Linked DNA regions of Homo sapiens: region 2 is linked to region 1. Evidence: fine-mapped expression QTL. Tissue or cell type: tibial nerve. Region 1 holds a variant in brackets; the other region holds the start of a gene. All regions are shown on one strand. Distances are from middle to middle.

What was found. PIP is the estimated chance that this variant, and not a neighbour inherited with it, causes the effect.
Region 2: APLNR starts here. The variant in region 1 is the best candidate, but not a certain one, in a credible set for the expression of APLNR in tibial nerve (GTEx, PIP 0.69).

The regions. Positions count from the first base shown.
Region 1 is chr11:57,177,587-57,181,902 of GRCh38, reverse strand. The region is part of intron 4 of LOC105369309 (a long non-coding RNA gene); the gene reads left to right. Among named protein-coding and RNA genes, the nearest start is that of LRRC55, 2.2 kb to the left of the region's middle. The variant C/T (reference allele first, on the strand shown) is at 2,314.
Region 2 is chr11:57,234,794-57,238,793 of GRCh38, reverse strand. APLNR (apelin receptor) reads left to right here and starts at 1,544. Exons shown (of 1, transcript NM_005161.6): 1 at 1,544-4,000. The coding sequence starts at 1,790. The coding sequence ends at 2,932. RefSeq lists an enhancer at 1,270-1,902.

The DNA of each region.
Region 1 (4,316 bases):
TCTGAGCATGTGGTATCATGGCTAGGGACTTTCCCAGGAGCCTCTGAGCACCAGAGGGCTTCCTGAGATCCACGGGAGGTCCCCTTCCGGAGCCTAGGGGGCAAGACACCCAGTTGAGGTCCCCTAGGGTCTGGAATGATGATCAAAACCTGAGAAAGGGAGGGGACAAGAATGGGGCTAGGTCAGCTGCCAGCAAGTCCTGGAAGAGTTCCTGCAGATCTTTTGTGTCTCTCTCACCCATGCCTGCTGGATGTTTCCTCTTGGTGCTGTGTCTGGGAGGGAGGGGCTGAAGGAGATGAAACGTGCCCTTTAAAGATCCTTGGCACTTCTTCTGAGAAAACTTAAGTCCTGTCCCACGTCTGGGACTGATTAGGAAGCCGGGGCTGCACCTGGGTCTTCAGTGTTGAAGGTCTCAGAGGCCATTTGTCCTGGTGGCCTGGTGGGCTGGAGTCCAAGGGGGTCCCAGGGTGGGTGTTTTGGGAAAAGGGCCCGGGAGGAAGTGAGTCTCCATGGGCCTCCTAAAAGCCTGAGAGTCCTCAGCCTCAGTGGCTGCTGGAATCCCCAGGAAGCCTCTTTTTTTCCCAAAGAGAGGAGGACCCCAGGTGATGCCCACTGTCTGGGCCTCTGGGGCCAGAAGAAGTCATGAGTCCTGAAGGTGCAGGCTGAGTGTCAGCTGGCAGAGCTCTGGCATCTTCTCCAAGCCAGTGCCTTCCTCAGCGCAGTTCTGTGTTCAGCAGGTGGAGGCCAAATTCCCTCTGTCAACAAGGAAAGCACTCAGGCAGAGAAATCCTGTGCCCTTGACACTCCCTTGTCCCTTCACCTAGGACGCTTGGCTTATCTTTGTCTCTTTCCTTTGCTCCCCCAACCACAAAGTTCTCTGCTTACTGTCTGTCAGGTGTGGGCCATGGTAGGTTCAGACCCCAGGCTCACATTGCTGTTACCCACGAGCCCTCCCTGACCCAACCTGCAGCCATCCTCCTCTGGGTTCCTGTCTTGGGTTAGATGCATTTTCTTCTTCTTCTCATAACCCCACCCTCATTAGTACCAAACACGCCACCCTTGAACAACTCCCTAAGAAAAATCTGCATCCACACTCTGGGGGTTTGCACACCCCTTTCAAACACTCTAAGCACTCCTCTCTCTCTCACACGCACACACACACACTCACTCACACACCATTCTGTGACTCCCCCGTATTTTGCCCTGCCCCGTGCTCACGCCTCGCGGTTTTCGCTCCAGCTTCCTTCTGCACAGGCGATTCTGCAGACCCCTCCCCAGTCGACCCCCAGCATCTTTCGCCCCCCTCTCAGCGCACACCCTTCATCCCAGCATCCCTTTCCACACACTGCACTCTCCTCGCCGCCCCCAGCAGAGGGACCGAGAGTGATGCCACGCCCAGAGCCTCAGCCCTCGCGCCCCGCGCCCTCTCGCTTCTCCCTTGCCCACCTGCTGTCCTCGGTCCTCCCCTCACCCTCGGCCTGGCGCTGCCTATTTTCCTACCGCTTCAAGCCTCAATCCCGCCCACCTGGAAATCACCCCAGCTCCCCTTCATGCAGACTCATTTTTCTAAGCCCCAGGTCTCCCCCTCGCACTCCCACAGGCCCCAGGAGCCTACTCACTCCGTTCCAAGGACACAGCCATCAATCTGCGGCAGACGCGGGTCTCCCTCCCTCCTCCTGGAATCCCCGCTTGCTCCTTGCTTGCTTCAGAACAGATTGCCTCCCAGGCTGTTCCCCTCCCCCGGCCTCTCCTCCTCCTTGTCTCCCGGATCCCAGGCCAGCATCTTCTATGATTTCCCGTCCTGCGGTCCCCCTGCCCCTTCTTTCACCCAAAGGGAAATCACAGAGACAGGATGCTCGGAAGAAAGTTCACAGAATCTGAATGCTTCTTTCTGAAACTCAGCTGGTGCCCAGGCTGCTGGGGTATAAGGCTTCCGCCAGAGCCAGGTCTTCCCCCTCCCTCCCCCCTTCCCACCCTCTCTCTCTCCCTCCCTCCATCCCTCCCCCAGTTCTCTCCCTTTTTCACTCCCCTTTTTTTTCCTCGAGGGCCAGGTACTGACGTTTCGCTGTCTCTTAGCAACTGCCTCCACATTTTTGAGCAACAGGAGAACTGGCTGTGGACCCCACCACAAAGAGAGAGGAGAGAAGGAAGCACAGGGCAAAATTCACAGCCGCCCACAGGATCCTGGGGATAGAGCGAGGAGAAGAGGGGGAGACAAGGGTGGGCAACTGGACAGGGGCAGAGAAAGAGGATCAGGCAGGGCCCAGTGGGAGAGGTCGTAGTAGGGGCAAGGTGTGGACCTGGAATCGGAGA[C/T]AGAGGAGGGATGGCTTAAGGGCATCAGATCCAGAAGAAAAAACTAAGAGGGCTTGCAATGAATGGAGAAAGGGACTTAGTGGGGGATGGGGCGAGTGAAGAATGGGGACATTGAAAACATGAATAGGAATGGAAACAAAAAAGGGATGTGAATATGATAAGTTTGCTCACTTGATGGGATATATCTTTGTAGTCACCATATAATATCTACTTACCTGGGTTGGAAGGTATTTTGGGCTCCAGCTACCAGGTGATTGGCTCAGGGCTTGTTAGGGACCATTATTGCAGGAAAGACCTTTTATATGTTCCCTGATTGTCCCTAAGTCCTGACCCCATGGGCTTTCTGGGGCTAGGAGGCTTGGCTGGAGTAGACCAATTTCCCCTTGGCTTGGGATATGAGAACTTTTGGGGTCCAAAAGGCCAACTACTTGGCCAGGTGGGGGCACCTGGGGCTCTACAGACACTTGGGTCTGTTAAGGGGAAAGGAAGCTTGTGATCCTTTCTTCTTTCTCCAGGCCTAAGGGATTCTGTCTGTTGTCTTGTTCCCATGCTTCCAAGCTTCCTTGGAGTGACTTCAGATGAGGATGAAATTTGTGCAATACCTGTTTTCTTGCTCACCCATTAAACAAGTCTCTAGCTGTCCTGCATTTTAAAAATTGTCTTGACCGGTTGGTTTGCTCAAAGAGCTGACTTATTTCTTTGCTTAATAAATATTTATTGAGCATTCACTGTATGCTGGGTACTTGGCCAGATGGTGGGCGACAAGATGGACATAGACTCCTCCCTCATGGAGCTGCTTCATTTGGTTGACCTGGGGCCTCTCGCATTTAAGTAAGAGCTTAGGTCTTTGGGGGATCCAAAATGGAGTAATAGAAAATAACAAGTGTGAAGTTATACAGATTCTGGGCATTTATAAAGTTCTTAAAATCATGGTTGTTGTCTTCTCTAACATGATTCTTTTTGCTATATGCTTGTAGAAAGTCAGTTCCCTTCTGTGTTCTCTCAGATGCTCATTTTGAATCTTTCATGTTCTACAGTCTCTGGCACAGAGTAACATGGCAGCCACTCCATAAATATTTGTATATTGAGTTGACTGAGGTAAATGAGATTTCACTCCCTGCTTAAAAAAAGGAATGTTTGTTTAATCTCACTTATGAGTTTAGAAGTAAAATATTAATCTTAACCCAGAAAACGCAACACAATGAAACAAGTAATCTATTCTAACTGAGGACTGTTGGCCTCCGGAAAGTAAAGCTAGCATCCTATGGAAAAATGGTAGAAAACATAATTATCTGAATGGAGGCTAAAAAAGCTATCCAGCATAGTTCAATATTTAGTGTTGACTAAAGGTAACTCATGAAGATTTTCTTTCTTTACATGATACGAAGTTTATATTTAAAATTAGAATTAATAATATAACTAAAGGAAAACATTAGTTACTGTGTTCCTTAAAAAATAGGATCTAGGTAAGATGCCTCATCACCGTTTGAAACTCAGTTTTCTGACCTTTGAAGTAGGGATAATGACGCCTAAGTCACAGGGTTGCTAGATATATGAGCCATTATAAATAAAGCACTTAGAACACTGTACAGATGGCTTTGTCAAATGAACAAATAAAACAAAGTAAAATAAACAAACAGCAGAATATAAAATCTCTAAAACAGTTATGGAGAAAGAAAAACAAATAAATTGCTCAAAAAGTAAGAAGTTAAGAAAGGAAAATATTACATTTGCAGATGATTTGAATGTATTCCTGTGCAAATGAGTTGCAAAACCTTCAGAAACCCCTAATTCAAGAACATTGTCATTGCATATATCTTCTGTAGAAGTGAGGTTCAATGAGACAGAAATATTTTACGTGACTTTATACCACCTTTAATCATTTTACAAATCATTATGGGTTTCTATGAATCCCAAATTGGCGTCCCAAGGTACACTGTGTGCCATGAGGTTCTTAAATAAGTTTGAGAAACACTGAGTTAAACAAAATGAAATGAGTTTAT
Region 2 (4,000 bases), 57 kb before region 1:
TGGCTTCCCCAACTCTTCAAGGTTGTGGAAAGGGTGCGTATTTTTTAAAAAAAATCTTACGTCGTGCATCTTCCTTCCTTCCTAGAGGTCCTGGAGAGGTGATGAGCTGGGGCAAAGTGAGCGTCTACGGAACTTTCCCCACAGTATCCTCCAGTGACTGAGTCTTTCTCTAGAGACCCCCCTCCTCTAGCTCAACTTCCTGACCCCCTGTGGTCTTACAGAAACCTCTTGGTCCATGGAGGATAGTAAAAACCTGAGAACTGAAATGTATCCATGTTCTCACCACGTAGTAATTCTTACACTTGTTCTTCCATCTATGGATTCCCCTTTTCACTCACCTCCTACATCATCCATCCACTTACTCACTCAACAGCCATTCACCTGGCTGGGCGTGGTGGCTCATGCCTGTAATTTCAGCACTTTGGGAGGCCGAGGTGGGTGGATCATCTGAGGTCAGGAGTTTGAGACTAGCCTGGTCAATCCCCATCTCTACTAAAAATACAAAAAAATTAGCCTGCAATCCCAGCTACTAGGGAGGCTGAGGCGGGAGAATCGCTTGAACCCAGGAGGCAGAAGTTGCAGTGAGCCTAGACCAGCCTGGGCAACAAGAGTGAAACTCTGTCTCAACAAACAAACAAACAAACAAAACAGCCATTCACCTACGACATGCCAGGTACTGTATTATGTTCGTGTTTGGAGAAGAAGAAAAGCAAACAATCAACTGTAGCATAATTCACTTTATTACCTTGGGCAAAACATTGACCTTGTTGGGCCTTTGTTTCCTACAGATTTAATGACTTGTTTAGAGATAATTTTGTCCTGGGTTTCTTCCATCCTGTGACTGCCCTCAACCTTCTAAAGCATCCTGTGCCTTCCGCAAACTGCAAACTGCAGTCTACACTAGTGTAGGGGTATTTCTCTAGAAACCACAAAAGTTCTCAGAGGGAGGGTCAAAGCCAAGGGGTAGAGAAAGATGAAGCGAGAGGCAAAGTGGGAGAAGACCCTCCTGTGACACCTGGTCTGGGTGGGGGCTGGGGGTGCAGGAAGGGAGCCGAGGGGGCCAGACCTGCCTGCCAGGAGGACCTGCCAGATGCCCTGCCCATCCTGCGAAATCTTACACCCTCCTTGCTCCCTACCAGCCCTGGCTCCAGCTCAAGCTGGATTGCAATCTGCATAATGTGTCCCATTTAGATTGGATGGAAGGGGGTGAGAACAGGAGGGCGGAGAGCACTGAGGAGGGAGTGCCCTAAAGGGCAGGCAGGAAGTGGTGGCCAGAGGAAAGTGGAGGGATAGGGGCTGGGGTGAAGGTGGGTGGCAGCCAGAAAGGAGAGGCGGGGCCAGGAAAGCCGACTTGCAAAACCACAGATAATGTTCAGCCCAGCACAGTAGGGGTCAATTTGGTCCACTTGCTCAGTGACAAAAAGAAAAAAAAAGTGGGCTGTCACTAAAGATTTTGACTCACAAGAGAGGGGCTGGTCTGGAGGTGGGAGGAGGGAGTGACGAGTCAAGGAGGAGACAGGGACGCAGGAGGGTGCAAGGAAGTGTCTTAACTGAGACGGGGGTAAGGCAAGAGAGGGTGGAGGAAATTCTGCAGGAGACAGGCTTCCTCCAGGGTCTGGAGAACCCAGAGGCAGCTCCTCCTGAGTGCTGGGAAGGACTCTGGGCATCTTCAGCCCTTCTTACTCTCTGAGGCTCAAGCCAGAAATTCAGGCTGCTTGCAGAGTGGGTGACAGAGCCACGGAGCTGGTGTCCCTGGGACCCTCTGCCCGTCTTCTCTCCACTCCCCAGCATGGAGGAAGGTGGTGATTTTGACAACTACTATGGGGCAGACAACCAGTCTGAGTGTGAGTACACAGACTGGAAATCCTCGGGGGCCCTCATCCCTGCCATCTACATGTTGGTCTTCCTCCTGGGCACCACGGGCAACGGTCTGGTGCTCTGGACCGTGTTTCGGAGCAGCCGGGAGAAGAGGCGCTCAGCTGATATCTTCATTGCTAGCCTGGCGGTGGCTGACCTGACCTTCGTGGTGACGCTGCCCCTGTGGGCTACCTACACGTACCGGGACTATGACTGGCCCTTTGGGACCTTCTTCTGCAAGCTCAGCAGCTACCTCATCTTCGTCAACATGTACGCCAGCGTCTTCTGCCTCACCGGCCTCAGCTTCGACCGCTACCTGGCCATCGTGAGGCCAGTGGCCAATGCTCGGCTGAGGCTGCGGGTCAGCGGGGCCGTGGCCACGGCAGTTCTTTGGGTGCTGGCCGCCCTCCTGGCCATGCCTGTCATGGTGTTACGCACCACCGGGGACTTGGAGAACACCACTAAGGTGCAGTGCTACATGGACTACTCCATGGTGGCCACTGTGAGCTCAGAGTGGGCCTGGGAGGTGGGCCTTGGGGTCTCGTCCACCACCGTGGGCTTTGTGGTGCCCTTCACCATCATGCTGACCTGTTACTTCTTCATCGCCCAAACCATCGCTGGCCACTTCCGCAAGGAACGCATCGAGGGCCTGCGGAAGCGGCGCCGGCTGCTCAGCATCATCGTGGTGCTGGTGGTGACCTTTGCCCTGTGCTGGATGCCCTACCACCTGGTGAAGACGCTGTACATGCTGGGCAGCCTGCTGCACTGGCCCTGTGACTTTGACCTCTTCCTCATGAACATCTTCCCCTACTGCACCTGCATCAGCTACGTCAACAGCTGCCTCAACCCCTTCCTCTATGCCTTTTTCGACCCCCGCTTCCGCCAGGCCTGCACCTCCATGCTCTGCTGTGGCCAGAGCAGGTGCGCAGGCACCTCCCACAGCAGCAGTGGGGAGAAGTCAGCCAGCTACTCTTCGGGGCACAGCCAGGGGCCCGGCCCCAACATGGGCAAGGGTGGAGAACAGATGCACGAGAAATCCATCCCCTACAGCCAGGAGACCCTTGTGGTTGACTAGGGCTGGGAGCAGAGAGAAGCCTGGCGCCCTCGGCCCTCCCCGGCCTTTGCCCTTGCTTTCTGAAAATCAGGTAGTGTGGCTACTCCTTGTCCTATGCACATCCTTTAACTGTCCCCTGATTCTGCCCCGCCCTGTCCTCCTCTACTGCTTTATTCTTTCTCAGAGGTTTGTGGTTTAGGGGAAAGAGACTGGGCTCTACAGACCTGACCCTGCACAAGCCATTTAATCTCACTCAGCCTCAGTTTCTCCATTGGTATGAAATGGGGGAAAGTCATATTGATCCTAAAATGTTGAAGCCTGAGTCTGGACGCAGTAAAAGCTTGTTTCCCTCTGCTGCTTTCTTAGATCTGCAATCGTCTTTCCTCCCTTCTTTCCTTGTAGTTTTTCCCCCACCACTCTCTGCAGCTGCCGCTCCTTATCCCTGCCTTCTGGCACCAATCCCCTCCTACAGCTCGTCCCCCTCCCTCCATCCATCCTTCTCCCCTGTCTACTTTCTTGTTCTGAAGGGCTACTAAGGGTTAAGGATCCCAAAGCTTGCAGAGACTGACCCTGTTTAAGCTTTCTATCCTGTTTTCTGAGTGTGAGGCAGGGAATGGGCTGGGGCCGGGGGTGGGCTGTGTGTCAGCAGATAATTAGTGCTCCAGCCCTTAGATCTGGGAGCTCCAGAGCTTGCCCTAAAATTGGATCACTTCCCTGTCATTTTGGGCATTGGGGCTAGTGTGATTCCTGCAGTTCCCCCATGGCACCATGACACTGACTAGATATGCTTTCTCCAAATTGTCCGCAGACCCTTTCATCCTTCCTCTATTTTCTATGAGAATTGGAAGGCAGCAGGGCTGATGAATGGATGTACTCCTTGGTTTCATTATGTGAGTGGGGAGTTGGGAAGGGCAACTAGAGAGAGAGGATGGAGGGGTGTCTGCATTTAGTCCAGACACTGCTTGGCTCGCTCCCCGAGTCCTCCTGTTTCTGACTTCCTGCATAACTGTGAGCTGAAGGGTTTCCTCATCTCCCCATCTTACCCCATCATACTGATTTCTTTCTTGGGCACTGGTGCTACTTGGTGCC